3 linked regions of the Homo sapiens genome follow. The protein of the gene in region 3 interacts with the protein of the main gene of each other region in a biochemical or structural test. Each region holds a gene or a part of one and is shown on either strand. Other genes may lie near its edges.

Region 1 (7,161 bases), on a different chromosome or scaffold from region 3:
GAAAGGAGACATCACCTCGTATCCTTGGCTTCTCATTACGTCATCGATTACAATCACAAGTCTCATTTCCTACAAGCCTGAAAGCGGGTTCTTCTCTGCATGTAGGAAAAAGCCCCGCTTACTAACTCTGCCCTCAAAGAGATCACAAGCTGGTCCTGAACGCCCTGTGCCCTGGGAATGCTTACTGTCGAAGCTCTGCAAATTTTCTCATTGAAGGCACTCAGGGCATTCTGCTAATTAAATTAGGAAAATGTGTACAGCTCTACTTGAAAAAATCCAGGTTTATGCTCTGTATTCTATTACCAAAGAATTTATCACTTTTCAAATAACATTCAATTATTTTAAACTGAGTGTGCAGTGAGAGCATTTATAATATAATCTCATTTCCAGAGTGTTCCATCCCAACTCCTCTCTGGTATAAGTAGCTTAGAAGGTTAGATTTTTTTTTTCCAGAGGATTAAACATTCGAGAAGAGTGGCTAAGAGGCAGCACCAGGTTTCTCTCATTTCCTCAAAGAGAATTTAGCCTTGTGAAGAAGAATAAAGTGAAGGTCAATGGTTAGATCCATGGCTTAAAAATAAAATGCAGCTTTCCTTACTCTGAATTTACCATAACCAAAAAGGCCACGAGGCAGCCATTAATGATCCTAAGTTGCAACAGAAAGAAAAAAACACCTACTTAGGGTTAAACGAGGATTCAGTGGTCACTTGCCGCCGGCCTCCACTTCACAGGGGCGGAGGATGAGGCCAGGGAAGACTTTCTTACCCACACTGACCTGACCAGAGATGAAACTCCCCCTCCTATGACAGCCTGCACTCAGAGGCTGATTCTGAAATAGTCATGCCAAATGCAGCCAATCCCTGTGTACAAGGAGAAAAAATAGTTCCTCAGAGCTGTGTCCTTGGGCCAGCCATCTGGACCTCTCACAATCTCTTTCGTTCTCCCTACACTTGGGCTGAATCCCGCCTTCCTTGCCTGCCAGGTTTGGTTTGGGGGCCAAATGAGTGAAAGTCCGTGAGATACCCCTAAGTATTGAAGTGCGTAGTAAATGATAATAGCCCTGATTTGTTGAACATGATGATGTGCCAGGCATTGCGCAAAGCATCATTTCATCATCACAACAAACACTGCTGGGAGGCAGGGACACCCCCACCCTCCTTGTACACCCAGAAGTAGGACTTTGGTTAAATGGCTCTCCCAAGGCCTCACAGCCTTAAAAACTCAAGCACTTATTTAATCCCCAATGATACTACCTTTTGGCCATGCAATGTGTCATGGCCAGTAATTAGATTTGCAAACACATATAACCAAAGAGGATTAGAAGAGACATATATTCTATATAAATTACATGAAAATAGCACTTTCAGTATTTTCCTGATTTTTTCTGGTAATTAAAAATGATTGCCCTTTATATTTCTTTATGGATACAGTTGCATTGTTTTTAGCCAATTGTAGCCCCCCCCTTTAAAGAGTGAATTAGTGGGAAAATAGTGTTATCCAAGATTTTAAGAATCTAGTGTGTGTGTTTGTGTGTGTAGGATGGGTTTTTCTGAAATATTTTACTTGCATGTGAATGTATAATTTTAAAGATTGGCTTTTAAAATACTGAATTGAGGTAAATTCAGCTTTTCTTGCAGACTCTTTACGATAAATGTGAAATTGAAAATGGAAATGCTCCATTCAGATGGTGTGCCGACTACAACCTCAACATACGGATAATTCACTAAATAAGTAACTTCCTCGTGGAATATCACGGTCAGCCTTTGTTTTGGGTACACATTCAATGAACTGGTTTCCTATTAGTTTCTGCTTGTCAACAAGTTGTGTCATTTACTGATAAATATCCAGCCTTTTACTAAGGAATACCGATTTTCTCAAGTCTCAGTGTGTGGAGGGGGTGGGAGTTTGGTGGGGAAGCTTTTCAATTTGAGAACCTTTGCCGTTTTTTGTTTCAATCGTGACTAAGATATAAAAGTCCTTGGTCACCACTGCCAGCTGCTACCTGTTCACTGCCTCCCTGACGGGTAATGAGGCCATCCGGAGTTTTAGTGATTAAAATGTTTTATTACTTGTATTCACATCATCATTAAGAAAAATAACTTCTAGTGGATCAATATGGCAAATGAGTAAACCAGAAGATGGCGTTGAAGATTAGCAATTACATTTAAAAACAAGGTAGTGGTGTGAAGGCTCAGAGTTTCACACAACGACTGTTGTTCTGAACTAAAAGCAGAGGATGTGGATGAGTGAGGGGAGGGTATGTTGAAAATGACTAAACCCGGTGCAGAGGACACGTATACGAAAGTGCAAAAAGCTCTCATTTGCCATTTTTTGTCCTCAGCAAACTCCTCTCTGGTATGTTTGTGAACGTTTGAGGGAAAGGTAACACTGATTAAAATATAATGCAACAAGAAGGCAACGATCTTTGCTTTGTTCACTGATGTGTTCCAAGTGCCTAGGACGGTTCCTGACAAGTAGCAGGTGCTCAAAATACATTTGTCAAGTGAATAAATCTGTGAAAGGAAAGGAAGAAAAACAGGTTGTGACCAGAACTTTTTGTGAACAAAACCCTGTTGTTTATTACATAGACTTTGGTAATGGAAAACTTACTTGGGTGAAATAAAAAATGGCATCCTGTTAATTTCTGAGAACGTCTGTTGGTTTTAGGAAAAGCATACCTATCCATACCTCACTACCTGTTTTGCTCTAGCCTAAACATAGATTCTTCTTTGGTTAGGAGACATTGACCCAATATATAAGATTAAAACAAAAACTGAGAAATAAGTGAAATCAAAAGCTTTTCAAAAGTTGCAGGTTGACCTACGGTGGTGGTGGTCTAAAATCATATAGAAACCAGAGATCTGATGGTTTACCTGAAAATGCGAAGTAAATGCACATACTCAGCATCTCAGACGATCGAAAGCTCAACGGGTGAAAGCTCAGGGGGTTAATTTTGCGATTAAGGACATCTTGGAAAAGTATGTAAAATCCCTGGTCCACTTAAGTATTATTCCTATTTTGGGCTTTTATTTATTTATTTTGAGATGGAGTCTTGCTCTGTCGCCCACCTCGGCTCACTGCAACTTCAGCCTCCCGGGTTCAAGCGATTCTCGTGGCTCGTCCTCTCAAGTAGCTGGGGCCACGCCCGGCTAATTTTTGTATTTTTAGTAGAGATGGGGTTTCACCGTGTTGGCCAGGCTGGTCTCGAACTCCTGACCTCAGGCGATCCACCGCCTCGGCCTCCCAAAGTGCTGGGATTACAGGCTTGAGCCACAGCGCCTGGCCTATTTTGGGCTTTTATACCCCACTGGTAAACTGCTTTCCTCCAGGTTGAGGTTAAAACGACATCATTTTAAGGTGAACTGAAGTCTGGAAGTGATTAAGCACTTGGATCCTTAGGGAGCCTCTCCCCGCCCCCATCTCTTTCATGCTAAGATAATTAAAACTTCGGGGCCGGGGCATTGTCTGAGTCACTTCAATTCACCAGCCTAATAGATGCAAAAGGATGTAAGCATGTCAGACACGCAGAGACAGTATTTGAATCAAGCTTAATAGCTCAAGGGAGCTGGGCCATTTCCTATTTTCTTTTTAGTGAGTGCGATGTTCTCTAAACACCGCGGAGAGGCAGGGTTCCCGGTGATGGCCTTGCCGAGGGTGCTCCCGCAACCTCCACCTCCAGTTCTCTTTGGACCATTCCTCCGTCTTCCGTTACACGCTCTGCAAAGCGAAGTCCCCTTCGCACCAGATTCCCGCTACTACACGCCCCCCATTTCCCGCCCTGGCCACATCGCTGCAGTTTAGTGATTGACTGGCCTCCTGAGGTCCTGGCGCAAAGGCGAGATTCGCATTTCGCACCTCGCCCTTCGCGGGAAACGGCCCCAGTGACAGTCCCCGAAGCGGCGCGCGCCCGGCTGGAGGTGCGCTCTCCGGGCGCGGCGCGCGGAGGGTCGCCAAGGGCGCGGGAACCCCACCCCGGCCGCGGCAGCCCCCAGCCTTCACGCCGGCCCTGAGGCTCGCCCGCCCGGCCGGCCCCGGCTCTCGGCTTGCAAAGTCCCTCTCCCCAGTCCAACCCCCGGCCCCCACAGGCCTCGGCGCCCCGCCCCGCCCCAGGCCCCGCCCCAGAGAGTTCTATAAAGTTCCTCTTTCCCACCTCGCACTCTCAGTTTCACCGCTCGATCTTGGGACCCACCGCTGCCCTCAGCTCCGAGTCCAGGGCGAGGTAAGGGCTGGAGTCGGGCAGGAGGAGGGGTGTGAGGCTGATACCAGAGAGGACCCGGAGCGCGAACCAGAGGTTCGACCTCCAGGGCAGCGCAGGGTACCCCGGCTTCGGAGCGGGAAGGGAGCGCGCCCCGTCCTGGAGCTCCGACTCCCACCCCATCTGCGCTGAGCCGGAGGCGCTGGTTTGGGCTCCAAGGCCCGCCTCCTTGGCTCTGCCCGAGCCTCCCCGCCTGCCCTCCGCGCTCCTGCGACGGGGTCGCCACAAGCTGGACGGGATGAGCTAACCGGACTGTCGGGGCCCCAGGAGTGGCTGAGGCGGGGCCGTCCAAGGCACCCACACAAGACGGCACAACTGCCTGCGAGAAACAGGCCCGGCCCTGTGGACCCCAATCCGAGGCTCCTTCCCCTGCTCTTCGTTCCTAAGGGGCCCAAGCTCACGGCGGCCTCCGGCGCGGTGCTCACCCGCTGGCGCAGGAGGAGGAGGAGCTCCACATTTGGGTCGCTCCGAGCCTTGCGTGCGGTGGCCTAGCCGGCCTGGCGCGGTCCCTGCCTCCCAGGCTCCGCAGCTGTCGTCGCCCTCTCCCGCGCCCTCCCCGCCTCCGCTCTCCCGGGCCTGCTCCGGGGTCCGGCGGACGCTCTGCGCGCGGAATCCCCCGTACTGGGGCTGCAGCCCCCGCGTCTGCGCCACTTGTCGTTTGCAGAGCCCACTTAGTGCGCGCTAGCTGGGCAGGGATAGGGGTCCTATTCGGGGCGAAGGGTCTGGATGCGAGCAGAGAAAGCGGAGGGTGGAGGAACCCGGGGCTGCGCCCCTGGAACGCCCGGCCGCAGGCGAGGTCCTCCGCGCGTGGAGGCCGCCAGGGGAGTGGAAACTGACAGAGTCGCGGGGAAGGGGCGAGAAGCGGGTTGGGAGTGAGCGAAGGCAAGCGAGAGCTGCGAGTGAGTGCGGAAGGAGGGCCAGGAGGGGTGGCGGCTGGGTGGGGAGAGAGGGTGCAAGACGAGCGGCGCGTGTCGGGAGCCTTTGGGCTGCGGGTGCGTTACAGGAGAGCAGGCGGGTAGGAGCCTTCGCGGGGGCCGAGCTCGGAAGGCGGACGGCTGTGCCCGCCCAGGGGATGCGCCCGGGCCGGCCGCGAAGGTGCCTTCTTCCGGGGGCCCGGACGACCCTGACACGGCACGCGCGCGCTTCGCAGCCTCAAAGACTCCGGGGCCTCGTGGTCACTGGCGCAGGGGATCGGGGCGGGGTGCCCGGAGTGCGGTGCCTCGTGGCTGAAGGGCAGCTCTTCTCCCCGCAGTGCAGAGCAGAGCGGGCGGAGGACCCCGGGCGCGGGCGCGGACGGCACGCGGGGCATGAACCTGGAGGGCGGCGGCCGAGGCGGAGAGTTCGGCATGAGCGCGGTGAGCTGCGGCAACGGGAAGCTCCGCCAGTGGCTGATCGACCAGATCGACAGCGGCAAGTACCCCGGGCTGGTGTGGGAGAACGAGGAGAAGAGCATCTTCCGCATCCCCTGGAAGCACGCGGGCAAGCAGGACTACAACCGCGAGGAGGACGCCGCGCTCTTCAAGGTCTCCGGCCTCGGGAGCCGGCGGGGGCGCGCCGGGGAGGGCCCAGAGACAGAGCCCGGGGTCCCCGGCGCCGCCTCCGAGGCGAGCCCAGGGGACCGCGCGGGGCGGACGGGCGGGCGGCGGAGGCATCAGGTGGCGTCGCCGGAGCCGCAGGAGGAGGAAAGGAGGCCTCGGCTCTCAGCGGGACCGCGGGGGCCGGGAGCCGGGTCCTGGGCGCGTGGAGGCTGCAGGGAAACCGCTGAAGGCCCGGCCGGGCCCGGGGAAGGGCGGCCAAAGGCTTGAGGGGTTTTGCGCGTTCGTCCGTGCGTTCTCGTTTCCACGCAAGCCTCCCGCCCTTCCTCCGGGCTCCCGTCTGCCGCCTCCGTCCGTGGGTCCCCCTCGCCCTCTCCGTGCGTCCGCGCCTGTGCCGGCGGCTGTTTTCGTCTCTCACCGCGTCTCTGTTTCTCTTTTCGCTGCTTTTCTCTCTGAGTCTCTCTCTCTCCATGTTTTTCCTGAGGTCAGCCTCTCTTCTCGCTCCTGCTAGCTCTCTGCGGGTACTCCCACCTCTGTCTTTCTCTTTGTGTGTCTCTGTCTCTCTCTTTCCCCCATCGCAGTGGAACTCAGGGCCTCTGTCTAGAGCTGTCTCCCTTGCCCTTTGCGCGAGTGCACACACGTGTGTCGTTGTTACGATTGTTCTCCCCTAAGGCAGTTTACCCAGAGAACTACGTGTCTGGGCCCAGCCCCCACCTGTGGGCAGAGCAGGGGAAGGGGACTTCCTCCGGGAATTTGGTCTCAATTTGCTCTCAGAGTGCCTCAGCTGTGCTGCCATCCAGATGTCTCCTGTGGGTGACAGCTCACACCACAGCTGTCCTTAGTCCTAGGCAAGCTCACTCAGACACTGGGTGGGTAGAGCCCCCTCAAGGAACCTCCGCATCTCACTCTACCGGTTATAAATACCCAGAAAATGTGTCTTCAACTTGGCAGTGATAGGGTCCAAGATGGAAAATCATTTTCCTAGAGCATAGCTGGGGTCTTTCAGTTTACGTTCTGAGCAACGGTGTAAATCTGAAGGACCTATGCGCCATTCTTTCTTTTAGAAATACAATTTCAAGATTCCTTATAAAATATCTGTATTTTGGGTTTAGCATGGTGGCTCACACCTGTAATCCCAGCACTTTGGGAAGATGAGGTGGAAGGATGCCTATGCAACATAGTGAGACCCTGCCTCTGCAAAAAATAATAATTAAAAAAATTAGCCAGGCATGGTGGTGAACACCTGTAGGCCGAGGGCCCAGCTACTCTAGAGGCTGAGATAGGAGGACCCTAGAACTCAGGAGTTCGATGCTGCGGTGAGCTATCATCGTGCCACTGTACTCTAGCCTGGGCAGCAGAGCAGGACTCTGA
Region 2 (7,025 bases), on a different chromosome or scaffold from region 3:
ACAACAGCATCCACATGGCAGCAAGGGGACCAGGGCACAGAGAGGGGGAGCGGGCTGGGGAGGGACAGTTTTCAGGGTCCCAGTTGCTTCCCTGGCTTGAAATCACCCTGGTCCTAGCAGAGGACAGGTTAAGGCTGCCAGAGGCAGAGGGTCCCTGACCCTGGCCCGGAGACAGACTGCCCAGGCAGGCCCTCTGATACCATCTTCCAACCATGGCAGCCTCCAGGAAAAGCCAGATCCATTTAGGAGATAACAGGAAGGTGGCTGTGATTGACAGGAAAGGCAACATGGTTCCTCAGCATCCTGCTGATCACACCTCTGGGAGGGGCTGCTGGATTGAAGAGGACCTAAGAATCTTCCTGGGAGCAGGACAGAAATGGGATCTAAGTCTACCTACTAACTAACATTCCCGCCTGTGACACCAGAAAGCTGGAGTGGGTCTGCTCAGATGTACAGGAAGAGAAAGGAATGACAAAGCCTTTGGCTCAGCAGGACTGGAGCCTTGACAGGCACTGACCAAGAAAGCCTCTAGGTGGGCCAGGGAGGTCTGTGGGAAAGCTTTGGATCAATGGTACTCAAGGGTGCACAGTGGCACAGTGGCCTTAGTTAGAATTTATGAAGACGAAAAGAACACAAGTCAGAATTTAGAACTGAAGTACCTGCTTCTTATAGGCCTGTAGAGGAAAAGCGAGATCATCCTTCTGGCCAGGACTAGGGGAGACCCAAGGCCTGTTCTTTCCTAGGGGCTGAGTTTGACAGACCTGGATTGCAGCTGATGGCCCCCAAAGTCCTCTAGATGGGCCCTGCAGGACTCGCTGGGAGGCCTGGTTGCCCCTCCCGGCGTGCTGGGACACTCTGGGTTCCTGCAGTTAGATGCAGTCCATGGAGTTCTCAGGGAGGAGGCCAGGGATGCAGCCAGGGAGCCCCAAGCCCTTGATAGGAGTGCAGTTGAGTGGGAGGCCGCAGCCCAGGGAGGGGTCCTGGGTCTCTATGGCCTCCAGCCTGTCCATGTTGTTGTCCCAGTTGATATGGAAGCGGGTCACCCGGGGGTTCGAGGCCAAGATGTTCCGCTGGAGCTGGGGCAGGAAGAGGAACGTCAACCCTTGTAGGTACGCCCTCTCCTTGGTCCCATAGAGCCAGGACACCCCCAATCACCCATCTCAAGCCCAGCAAGAGCAACCTACATATGGAACTCCAGAAAACACCTGTGGCCAGGACCTTATTTATTTATTTATTTATTTATTTTTTGAGACGGAGTTTTGCTTTTGTTGCCCAGGCTGGAGTGCAATGCTGTGATCTCGTCTCACTGCAACCTCTGCCTTCCGGGTTCAAGCGATTCTCTTGCCTCAGCCTCCTGTGTAGCTGGGACTACAGGTGCAAGGCACCATACCTGGCTCATTTTCGTATTTTTAGTAGAGACGGGCTTTCACCATGTTGGCCAGGCTGGTCTCAAACTCCTGACCTCAGGTGATCCTACAGCCTCGGCCTCCCAAAGTGCTGGGATTACAACGCGTGAGCCACTGTGCCTGGCCCAGGACTTTTTTTTTTTAAGGGACAGTCTCACTCTGTTGGTCAGGCTGGAATGCAGTGGCACGATCTGAGCTCACTGCAGCCTCAAACTCCTGGGCTCAAGCGATCCTCCCACCTCAGCCTCCAGAGTAGAGCACACCACCCATGTCTGGCTCATTTTTTTTTTTTTTTTTTTTTGCGGGGGTTAGGGACAGGGTCTCACTATGTTGCCCAGGCTGGCCTAATCTTAATTCTCTAAGACATGCCTTTGAGAGACAAAGGTCTTTTTCTCCTCTTCTAACACAGTACTGTAAGAACTGAATATTACTTGAAAACCTTAAGAAGTGACCTTGACTCTCAATTTGAATGGCTGAACTCCCCCCAAGTATAAAGAACGGCCTTGTGGGAAGCAGGAAGTGGAAACAGGCCCCACCTGGGAGAAATCTGGCTTCATGGGCGGGTTCTCACGCAGCTCAGGGTTGAGGTACTCGTTGTTGACGTAGTAGCCCACTCGGATGAACTCCTGTCCATGGTAGGTGCAGGTGATGAGGACCACAGTCACACCCACGGCATCAGTCTCTGGGATGAGGGATGGGTTGGGGGCGTCGGCCTAGGGGAGACACATCCTAGGCCTTAGCAGTGCCACAGCCATGCCTCGATGTCATTAGTACAAAGATTCCCAAGCATCATGTATTTACTGAGCAAAAAGTATGCTCTCTGCCCTCAGTTTTCTTTTTTTTACTTCTGCCTCTCGGGTTCAAACAATTCTGCCTCAGCATCCCAGGCAGCTGGGACTACAGGCACACACCACCACACCCGGCTAACTTTTTTTTTTTTTTGGTATTTTTTTTTAATGGAGTTTTGCTCTGTTGCCCAGGCTGAAGTGCAATGGTGCGATCTCGGCTCACTGCAACCTCCGCCTCACGGGTTCAAGCGATTCTCCTGCCTCAGCCTCCCGAGTAGCTGGGATTACAGGTGCCCACCACCATGCCCGGCTAATTTTTGTATTTTTAGTAGAGATGGGGTTTCGCCATGTTGGCCAGGCTGGTCTCGAACTCCTGACCTCAGGTGATCCACCCGTCTTGGACTCCTAAAGTGTTGGGATTACAGGTGTGAGCCACTGCGCCCAGCCTTTTTTTTGTATTTTTAGTACAGACGGGATTTCACCATGTTGGCCAGGCTGGTCTTAAACTCCTGACTTCAGGTGATCTGCCCACCTCGGCCTCCCAAAGTGTTGGGATTACAGGTGTGAGCCATTGCGCCTGGACTTTTTTTTTTTTTACACAGGGTCTGGCCTCCCTCTGTTACCCAGGCTGGAGTGCAATGGCGCCATCATGGCTCACTGCATCCTTGAACTCCTGGGCTCAAGCAATCCTCCTGCTTCAGCCTCCCAAATAGCTGGGACAACGGTGTGTGCCAACATGTCTAGCCAATTATTTTTTGTAGAGACAGGGTTTCTCCATGTTGCCCAGGCTGGTCTCAAACTCCTGGGCTCAAGCGATCCTCTCACCTCAGCCTCCCAAAGGGCTGGGATTACAGGTGTGAGTCACTGTGCCCAGCCAGGAGTTGTCAACTGATGGAAACACAGAATCAATCCCACAAATGACTACAAAACGTTGACTGTGGCAGGGAGAGGTGCGTGGTACTCTGGAGGAGTGTGGTGAGCCGGGGGACAGTGGCATGAAGCTGAACAGGTGAGGCAGGTGGTATCAGGCCACCCGGGGGCCAGCTAAGGGATTGGGAAAGGGCAAGAGAGTAAGCAGGAGGTTAAGTGCCACATCACTCTTGTGATCTGAAAAGAAGCCTCTGGCAAAGTGTGGAGCCGTGACAGGAGACTGTAGTGGAGCAGAAGGCTTACACCAGTCATCCTGGAGAGGCAGTGGACTTGGCTTAGACCAGGCAGTAAAGAACAGATTCAGGGTGTACTACTGCAAACAAGACCAGCCACGTAATTGGTGCAAAATAAAACCAATGCAAAATGAAAACACCACGCCCCTCCAGAAAAGCTATTAGGTTTCAGACGGTGACAGCAGAGTATCGCACCAAGTGTGGGGTCCTGTGCAGCTGCCTGGGTTGCACACCCAGGAGGCCAGTCCTGACTGTTGAGTAGATAGGGCCTGTCAGTGGATTTAGTAGTGGTGGCTGAAGGGGTTAGATAGGATGTGGTAGCTTGGATTAGGGCGGTAACAGCAGTGATGGAGGTAAGGGAGTGTATCCGAGCAGAGGATCCTGAAAAATCACCTGGAGAACTCAGAATCTCCATTTGTTTTTTCTTTCTTCTTTTTTTTTTTTTTTTTTTTTGAGATGGAGTCTCACTGTCACCCAGGCTGGAGTGCAGTGGCGTGATCTCGGCTCACTGCAAGCTCCGCCTCCCAGGTTCACGCCATTCTCCTGCCTCAGCCTCCTGAGTAGCTGAGACTACAGGTGCCCGCCACCAGGCCTGGCTAATTTCTTGTATTTTTTAGTAGAGATGGGGCTTCACCATGTTAGCCAAGATGGTCTCAATCTCCTGACCTTGTGATCCGCCCACCTTGGCCTTCCAAAGTGCTGGGATTACAGGCGTGAGCCACTGCACCGGCCTTCTTTTTTTAAAGAGATAGCTTTTCCCTCTGTCATCCAGACTGGAGTGCAGTGGTGCAATCACAGATCACTGTAAACTCCTGGAACTCCTGGGCTCAAGCGAGCCTATTTTTTTTTTTTTTTTTTTTTAGAGACAGGGTCTCACTCTGTTGCCCAGGCTCGAGTGCAGTGGCGCAATCTCAGCTCACTGTAACTTCCGCCCCCTGGATTCAAATAATTCTCGTGCCTCAGCCTCCCGAGTAGCTAGGATAACAAATGTGCACCACCACATCCAGCTAATTTTTGTATTTTTTAGTAGAGACAGGGTTTCACCATGTTGGCCAGGCTAGTCTTTAACTCCTGACCCCAAGTGATCTGCCTGCCCCAGCCTCCCAAAGTGTTGAGATTACAGGTGTGAGCCATGGCACCTGGCCTCAAGTGAGTCTTCTGCTTCAGCCTCCCTAGTAGCTGGCACTACAGGCCTGCATCACTATGCCTGGTTAATGTTTTTTTTGTAGAGACAGGTCTCGCTGTCACCCAGAATGCAGTGCAGAGGTGCAATCATAGCTCGCTGTAGCCTCAAACTCTCAGGCTCAAGCAAGCCTCCTGCTTCAGCCTCCCAAGTAGCTGGGACGACAGGTGCAAGCCACCACACCCGGCTAATTTTTCTATTTTTTGTAGAGATGGGGGTCTCGCTATGTGGCCCAGGCTAGTCTGGAACTCCTGGCCTTAAGCAGTCCTCCCGCCTCTGCCTCCCAAAGTGCTGGAAGCCACCACACCCGGCCAGAATCTACATTTGACAACCCAGGTGGGGTGCTGCATGAGAGCCATTTAGGAGTTACAGTCCATCCTCATTATTCATGGGTTCCATATGTGCAAGTTCACCTACCTGCTAAGTTTATTTGTAACCCCAAGATGAACACCTGCTTGCTTTCACAGTCACTTGCAGACATGCACAGAGCAGGGAAAAACTGGAGTTACCTACCATGCCTGTTCCCACCTAGAGTTACCTACCACGCCTGTTCCCACCTGAGGTCAAACAAGGCAACACTCTGTCTTCTGGTCTCAGCTCTCACTGTGAATGAGCGTCCTTTCCTCAGCCTACTTAGTGCTTTTTTCCATGTTTTGTGCTTTTTGTTGGTGAGTTTGCTGTCTATGATGGCACCCAACGGTAGTGCTGAAGTGCAGTGTAGGATACAAGAAAGGCTTTATGGAAAATATGCGTATTAGAGAAGTTTCATTCAGGAGAGTTATAGTGCTGTTGGCTGTGAATTCAACATAAATGAACCACTGTATATATTAAATAAGGTATCTTTCCTTTTTTTCTGAGACAGAGTATCGCTGTATCACCCAGGCTAGAGTGCACTGGTGCGATCTCAGCTCACTGCAATCTCCATCTCCCAGGTTCAAGCGATTCTCCCGCCGCAGCCTCCCGAGTAGCTGGGATTACAGGCATGCGCCACCACACCTGGCTGATTTTTGTATTTTTAGTAGAGACGGGGTTTCATCACATTGGCCAGGCTGGTCTTGAACTCCTGACCTCAGGCGATCCACCCACCTCAGCCTCCCAAAGTGCTGGGATTACAGGTTTGAGCCATCATAGCCGTCCTGGTGTCTTTTCAACATAAACACACATACAAGTTTACGTATTAACCAGCTGACGAAAATGTGACTTCCAAGAATCTAACCCTGTATTTCCCCTGGGGCAATGGTTCAGTATTCACTAATTCAGTGTTCGCGGCAACTTTATAGAACGTAACTCTTGTAAATAATGGGAATTGCCTGTAAATCAGTGGCAGCTTTGACACAGAGGTGGGGGAAGGGAGGGCCTGACGGCCTCTGAGAGGTCAGATAGTTCCTGACAGTAGAACTAGGATTTGAACCTGAACTTTTAAATTGTTTTAATTGATTGATTGAGACTGGGTCTTACTGTTGCCCAGGCTGGAGTGCAGTGGTGTGGTCTTGGCTCATTGTAGCTTCCATCTCCCAGGCTCAAGTGATCCTCCCATTTCAGCCTCCCAAGTATCTGAGACTACAGGCGCACACCACCATGCTCTGCTGATTTTTACATTTTTTGTAGAGATGCGGTCTCACTATATTGCCCCAGCTGGTCTCAAACTCCTGGCCTCAAGCAATCCTCCCACCTCGGCCTCCCAAAGTGCTGGGATTACAGGTGTGAGCAACTGTGCCCGGCCTCTATGTTTTTAATACTTGTTTTTTTCTTTTTTAGAGACAGGGTCTCACTGTGTTGCCTAGGCTGGAGTGCAGTGGCTCACTGCAGCCTCAGACTCCCGGGCTCAAGCAATCCTCTCACCTCAGTCCCTGGAGTAGCTGGGTCTATAGGCGTGAGCCCGTGCCCAGCTGAACTTGAACTTTTGATTCCTGAAGCACTCTGTGGGATTTCAGGTAAAAGAGGATGTTTCTAGGAATCAAGGGCTAAGGCCTAAGGCCTCATCTTTCTTACCTGAAAGACAAACATGTGTCTCCCTGCTGGCACAGGGCCCACCAGCACCGAGTCTAGGATCTGATCAAATTCCTCACTCTCAGCCGAGCCAACATAAATGATCTTCCACTCCAGGTCTGCAAAGATATAGGAGGGTTAACTAATTGAAATAGCTCAACAGCAAGAAGGCAGGGATAGGCTCTTGTATTTTTTTTTTTTTTTGAGATGGAGTCTCGTTCTGTCACACAGGTTAGAATACAGTGATGCGATCTCAGCTCACTGCAACTTCCGCCTCCCAGGTTCCAGTGATTCTCATACCTCAGCCTCCCGAGTGGCTGGGATTATAGGTGCCCGCTGCCACGCCTAGCTAATTTTTTTTTTCTTTTTTGAGATGGAGTTTCACTCTTGTCACCCAGGTTGGAGTACAATGGTGTGATCTTGGCTCACTGCAATCTCTGCCTCCCAGGTTCAAGCGATTCTCCTGTCTCAGCCTACTGAGTAGCTGGAATTACAG
Region 3 (7,025 bases):
CCTCCTCCTTTTTTCTGCCCTGCTATACAATGAGGGAGGGTAGATTAGAGATTTTTAGATTGTGCTATTTGGCTCCTCCAAACTATTCAAGGGCCACATGTTCCCACCATTTCAAAACTACATACAGTAAAATTCCAAGACACTTGCTATTTCCTTAAAAACAGATTTGATTTTAAAGTGAGTCACATGTTCTATGTGCATTCATTATTCTCTCTTTAAGACAGATATAACTGTGTTCCCCATATTAGACTCTACCTTGGGTATTTTCTTAATAATATGATAAAGAAATGACAAGTTCTGGCAAAAACAAATTTAAAAATATTTTTACCTAGTTCCTGATCTTAAACAATCTCACTATTAATTCTGAAATTACTTTACATGGATTTTAAGAAAGTAGGATGCCTATCTGGAGAGACATTACTGCATGGTGGTTTAGATGAAAAAGATCCAAGTTGAACTCTTTGGTCACATTATTTATGGGTCCCTGGGCAAGTTAATTTAATTTCTCTAAGCTTGTTTTCTGATTAATGTATTAAAGATGACTGGGTTATCCTGCGGATTAAATGAGAGCACTAAGGGCACTTAGGACCAAGCCTGATACACAGAGAGCTCTCAGGAAGTGGTACCTGCTGTTGTCTGCCACTTTAACAGAAAGACAGGTCCAAAGCTCATATAAGCCAAACAAAAATATACAAGCTATGGCTTTATGAAAAAATGTTTCAGGGTCCAAAAAATATGGGGAAAAAACAGATTACTTATAAAAACCCCTTTCTACTTTCAACCTACTTTTCCCAGTTTCAATTCATCTACAATTAATGTACTGAACTTAAGAGTCTTACTTAAAATCTCAACACCTGAATAGCCCTTAAAGGTCATTCAGAAACCGAGTGTCATCTCAACCCAATACTCTTTCCACAACACCACACTGTGACCCATCTTCCCTTTCTTAAGGCTCTGTAGGAAAATCTGAATATGCAACATATCTCAACCATTTACAATTACAAAGCCATATTGTTTTAGTAATCTTTATTCATGTAAAAATGCTATATGTATACACATATATACTTAATATATAAATTTAATACAATTGTATATTTAAACCAAGGCAAATCATAATTTTGTTCACAAAATTGTATTAGATGCTACAAAAGAGCTAAATACACCATGGAATCATTTATGTAACTTACATTAAGCAAACACATTATTCTAGACCATTCAATTCATATCATAAAATGCTTAGCAATCTCCAACCCAATATGCCCTGAAGTAGCTTACTGTGAATTATCTTCATTATGTATCCTTTTTAGTTCCCTGATATGTAGATTTCTAACCCTTTCTAGTCTCTCCAGCTCTGCCTGGATCTCTGCTTCCTCCTAAAGCGAAAAGGAAAGAAATAGCACAAAATAGGGGGAACTTTACCTTTTCGGGATCTTATTTCAAAAACAATAGCAGACATTTATCTTATGAAAGGCTAAAGGAAGGTGCTTTGCATTGAAAGATTTCTTTAAGAATTTTAATCATAAAAATGAGCCCATAGAAAATAATAAAATTCAAACCATACAGAGGAGTTCAGTAAGAAAAGTAAAAGTTCCCTACCCTCCTCCTCCCTCCTCTCCATGCCCACTCCTGAGATGTAATAACCACTATTAAGTTTCTTACATAAGTTTTCAGGAATGTTTTGTGCATATACATTTAGACATGGAAACATTTTTTACAAAAATCAGGTTATCTATCTGGTTCGGTTCTCATCTTTAAGTATGGATTACACTTGGTGACTTAAGTTCTACTTATTTTTATTTTTTAAGATGGAGTTTCGCTGTTGTCACCCAGGCTGGAGTGCAATGGCACGATCTCGGTTCACTGCAACCTCCGCCTCCCAGGTCCAAGTGATTCTCCTGCCTCAGCCTCCCGAGTAGCTGGGATTACAGGTACATGCCACCACGCCCAGCTAATTTTTTGTATTTTTAGTAGAGTCGGGGTTTCACCATGCTGGGCAGGCTGGTCTTGAACTCCTGACCTCAGGTGATCCACCCACCACAGCCTCCCAAAGTGCTGGCATTACAGGTGTGAGCCACCATCCCCAGCAAGTTCTACTTATTTAACAAGCTCTGAGAACCCAGTGGGAAAACAGCATGAAAACTAATATGTGAAATAAAAAACAAAAGCACACATACCAAAAGCAGTTTAGTAAATCTTTACTGACCATTATCACCTATAAAGAGCATCGACCAATGTATGGGCTTCTGAATTTTAAGAGCTGAGTAATCCACATCTAAGATATCTCAGTGAACATCATCAATAACAAATTCTATGTTATGTGCCTTTGTATTTGAATAAGGTTCACATAACACTTTCTCTTTTTAGCTAGTTTAGGCAAGGAATAAGAGCTGCTATGTGATTTGAAATATGACAGGAGTCTTCACATCAATTTCAAAACCATCTGCTCTTGTTATATATTTAAATTTTACTCCAAGGATAACCACTTGGGAAGCCTTATGATGTGTACAGAATTATCTGCTGATAGATCACTAGGGGGAAAAACACTGTCATTGGGTTGCTGGAATTGACTTGAAAATGCAAAGATAGGCCAGGCATGGTGGCTCACACCTGTAACCCGTAATCCCAGCACTTTGGGAGGCCGAGGCAGGAGGATTACTTGAGGTCAGGAGTTCGAGACCAGCCTAATGGTGAGACCCCCGTCTCTACTAAAAATACAAAAATTAGCTGGGTATGGTGGCACGTGCCTGTAATCCCAGCTAGTCAGGAGGCTGAGACACGAGAATCGCTTGAGCCCGGGAGGTGGAGGTTGCAGTGAGCCAAGATCGTGCCACTGCACTCCAGCCTGGGAGACACAGTGAGACTCCAACTCAAAAAAAAAAAAAAGAAGAAGAAAGAAAATGGAAAAATATGAGTTCTACCATTAGGCTACAAGACATGACAGTGAAAGCAGTCACTGAAGCTTTCTGCTGCTATGTGCAGCTACTATTACATTCACCCAAATGACCAAATAGCTTCAACCCCAAATTTAAACTAGGTATCACATTTCTCCAGGGAGATTTTCTCATTATACTTACCTTTTTAAGATGACCTAATCTGAGTTTGAAGATTTCTTCTTGTTCATGGTATTCTGCTAACGTTAACCTGAAAAACAGTGGTAAAAGTTTCAGTAAACTACTAGAAATCATAGTTTGCCTGTTTAAAGAGAAATGCTCAAATATACTATAAGACATATTCAGTTTCAGTCTCAGTTAAAATGACTGAAAGATGGGTTATCTTGTAGTCCTCTGACAAGAGAAAACTTCTGTGATTTACCAGATGTGATGTGAGGGAAGAACTTCAAAGCCAGAAGTCTAATTTGCAAAACATAAAAAAGAAAAAAAAGTGAGCCATATTTTTATATTATTTTTGAAATGAGTTTTGTGCCATATATTACTAAGATAAAAACTCATTCAGAGACAGCCAAAAATTCTCTAAAAATTTTTTAGAGGGCAAAACAATAAGCCAATGGATTTGATTATTCTTGTTAATACTTAAACCTTGATACTGTAATAACAAAGAGAAAGATATAGCAGCAAATTAGAGTCTAGGATTTGGAGTCTGAGGACTAGGGTTCAAAGCACTACTAAGCTACTGGCCATGTGACCTTGCGCAAGCAAATTTAACCTCTTTAACTCAGTTTCCTGAAATGCAGCAAGTGATAATACCTATCTAAGAAAGAGTGACTATTAAATGACAACATATAAAGAATATTGAAAATGCTATTTAAATCAACTCTCAAAGGGCTGACTTGATGGGTAGTCATGTGTTTCATGTTCCAACTACTCCAACAGCATCCTTACATCTCAAGAATGAACAAGTGGCCAGGCTTGGTGGCTCACTGTAATCCCAGTACTCTGGGAAGCTGAGCGGGAAGGACTTGGAGCCAGGAGTTTGAGACCAGCCTGGGCAACAAAGCAACACTCTGTCTCTGTGAAAAAAAGAAGAAAGAAGCTGGGCATGGTGGCACATGCCTGTAGTCCCAGCTACTCAGGAGGCTGAGATGGAAGGATTGCTTGAGCCCAGAAGGTTGAGGCTATAGTGAGCTATAATCATGTCACTGCACTCCAGCCCAAGCAACAGAGCAAGGCTCTGTCTCAAGAAAGAAAAGAAAAGAAAAGAAAGAGAGAGAGAGAGAAAGACAGAAAGAAAGAAAATAAAAGAAAAAAAGATGAACAAGTGAGAATTATTTTTTCTTCCATCTCTACCTTCTTCGCATTCTAGAAGCATATAGATATTTAATATTTTTAGATATCACTGTTTAGATATATTCTAAATAGCAGAAGAAAGGGGAAATATCTATCCTATCAACCAGAACAGAGCCTTTGAGGTCTAACTCAAGAAAAAATAGAAAGAAGAAGAAACTCACCCACTAGGGCTATCTCTTTACAGATGCAGAAATACCTGTATCTATTACTCCATTCCACACCAGCGAAAAACAGAAAAATTAAAAATGATGGCTAAGAATTCTCTGTCTGAAACAGGTTCGGGGCCAAGAAAGGATAATATGGCTCACTCCAAGACCCCAGAGGCCTACTTCTGGCTTCTGGTCAAAGTAAGAGCCAAGTCACAGATACTCTAATTAAAAACTGGACTGAAAGTCTTCCAGATTGGATTTTACACAGGACACCAGATAGCAATTGCTTACACATTACTAGCCTAGATTGCATTCTAATTATTCTTCTGTGGCAAAGAAACAACCTATGCTTTCTTTATCACTCCTAAGCCAATGGTTTTGTGCATTAGCATTAAATAATTTTCAAATAATACTAGAGGGAAAGTCCCTTCACAAAATACACACAGGAGTCATGAAAGAAAACATTGGTCAGATTAATTAGCCTGGACAATCTTTCAAATTTGAGCCCCTACTTGGACTTGCTGAAAGGAAAATACTTTATATTTAAGACTCAATACTCTTCCCCTCTTCTCATTCTCATTATTGCACTTGACTAGTCTTTAAAATCAAGGGAAAACAAGACTCTAGTTTTGTAACATTTGGGCTGGGTGCAGTAGCTCGCACCTGTAATCCCAGCACTTTGGGAGGCCGAGGAGGGTGGATCATTTGAGGTCAGGAGTTCAAGACCAGCCTGGCCAACATGGAGAAACTCCATCTCTACTAAAAATACAAAAACTAGCTGGGCATGGTGGTGCACGCCTGTAGTCCCAGCTACTCAGGAGGCTGAGGCAGGAGAAACGCTTGAACCCAGAAGACAGGTTTCAGTGAGCCGAGATAGCACCACTGCACTCTGGCCTGGGCGACGGAGTGAGACTTCGTCTCAAAAAAAAAAAACAACAACAACAAAATTTGGAGTTATATGAATGAAGATGTTTTCCAAGTTCATTATGCACATTTTTATCGCTATACTTAATGTAATTATTAGTTTATTCGTCTGTTCATCTCACCTAAGTAAACTGTGGGCTCCTAAGGCTGGGGCTGTATCCTTTAGCTCTGTATTCCCAGAAGAGGGCCTAGCATAAAATAAGCATTTAACATAAACTTACTAAACGAACATCAAGGAAGAGACTTCCCAAAACATCAGATATGTATGGGGTGAGGATTGGTGTTAAGCCATCTTTCTCACTAGAATGAAAGAAGATGCACTTCTAGGATGCCACAGACTTTTAACAATAATATAATACAAGTATTATTATACCTGAAGTGGATTATGTGTTGTTTTTGTGAACTAATATGAAAACATAAAGCAAATGACATATTAGTTGATAAGTTATATATCTTTTATCTGCAGCTATCTTTGGACTTGAAACTTACTTTCAGTTAAACAGAAAGGAAGAGAAGAATGGAGAAGGCAGGCATTTGTGCTTAGAATTTTCTACTCCTCCTATATATGGTAGCTATGTAAATATTGTTGAGTGACAGAGAAAAAGATGACTGTACTGCAGTTTAAGATACTGGTGTTTTCCTTAGATTCCCAGAACAGGAAACAATTCTGATGAGATCAAGTTGTGGCTTATTGGGACAATGTCCTTTTCTAACATAACAGCTTTCTGGGGGGCTTATCCTAAGTTTGTGACTATTAACTAAGTGCTCTTTTGACCAGTAAAGAGCATTCTTCAGTCTGAAATAACAGCCAGGTAACTCCCATAAGATGATACTAGTGTACCACACCCTGCAGCCACATGTAAGCAATAATATCATTTCAGTACAATGACATCTTATTTGTTAACCAGGAGTGGCCAAAAGTCATGATGTCAAGTGACATTACTTTTCCCTCTCATTCAAAATGCCCTAAAGAAAGAGCAGGTTTAAGAAAATCAATTAATTTTATATGGCATTTATATGAGTTGAGCAAATCCATTAATGTAACTGAAAAGAAGGTTTAAACCTGAGTGACCTCAAGAATTTAAAACTATTGCCGGTGACAATCAACATTTGTATTTGGGGGCAGGGTGTGGTGTCTCAGCGTTCACGTCAATAAAGAACATACGTTTCATTTTCAGCTCCATTGGTCTTGCTTTTCCGCTGTTTCTGCTCATTGGTTGCAGGAGGGGCCTGACCCATGGCAGGAGGTTTCCGCTTTGCTAACATTTTCCGTTGTCTTTCTATCTCTTCCCTCTGTGAATTTATCCTTTCCTGTTGCCTAGAGATATAAAAGACGTTGTACAAAGAAAGAAAGTCAAAAGTTTTACCACAGCTATGGAACACACACAATTTGTCACTTGTGTATCCAATTTCAGAAAAAATAAGCCCCTTTAAGTCAAGTAGAGATTTGATTTTAACTTCAGATTGGAAGGGCCAAATAATTGGTGATAGATGTTTTCTGGGAATGAGTCTGTGCTTTAAGACACTAGTTATTACTATTTTCAGAGTGGACAGGAAGGAACATATCAAATTTCTATTGTGACCTTATTTTCTGACTCAGAAGGAACAATTTTCTGATTCCTTTTTAACAGCTAAGGAAACAATTCTCTGATCTGAACCCATTAAAAGTAAATCGTATTTTAAAAGTTGTAAAAAGTTCCAAGTTCTA

The links. The genes of interacting proteins can lie anywhere in the genome.
Region 1: the proteins of TLK2 (region 3) and IRF4 form a complex in vitro, tested with the Homo sapiens proteins (one study listed by BioGRID).
Region 2: of the proteins of TLK2 (region 3) and ASF1B, one has a biochemical effect on the other in vitro, tested with the Homo sapiens proteins (3 studies listed by BioGRID).

The regions. Positions count from the first base shown.
Region 1 is NC_000006.12:387,591-394,751, forward strand, and holds the start of IRF4 (interferon regulatory factor 4), read left to right. Parts: upstream 1-4,161; 5' UTR 4,162-4,219; intron 4,220-5,507; 5' UTR 5,508-5,562; coding exon 5,563-5,778; intron 5,779-7,161. UniProt on the Homo sapiens protein: Transcriptional activator. Binds to the interferon-stimulated response element (ISRE) of the MHC class I promoter. Binds the immunoglobulin lambda light chain enhancer, together with PU.1.
Region 2 is NC_000019.10:14,119,590-14,126,614, forward strand, and holds part of ASF1B (histone chaperone ASF1B), read right to left. Parts: intron 6,649-7,025; coding exon 6,533-6,648; intron 2,120-6,532; coding exon 1,943-2,119; intron 1,077-1,942; coding exon 870-1,076; 3' UTR 1-869. UniProt on the Homo sapiens protein: Histone chaperone that facilitates histone deposition and histone exchange and removal during nucleosome assembly and disassembly. Cooperates with chromatin assembly factor 1 (CAF-1) to promote replication-dependent chromatin assembly.
Region 3 is NC_000017.11:62,572,825-62,579,849, reverse strand, and holds part of TLK2 (serine/threonine-protein kinase tousled-like 2), read right to left. Parts: intron 6,636-7,025; coding exon 6,483-6,635; intron 5,506-6,482; coding exon of another isoform or gene 5,440-5,505; intron 3,142-5,439; coding exon 3,075-3,141; intron 1,374-3,074; coding exon 1,276-1,373; intron 1-1,275. UniProt on the Homo sapiens protein: Serine/threonine-protein kinase involved in the process of chromatin assembly and probably also DNA replication, transcription, repair, and chromosome segregation. Phosphorylates the chromatin assembly factors ASF1A and ASF1B.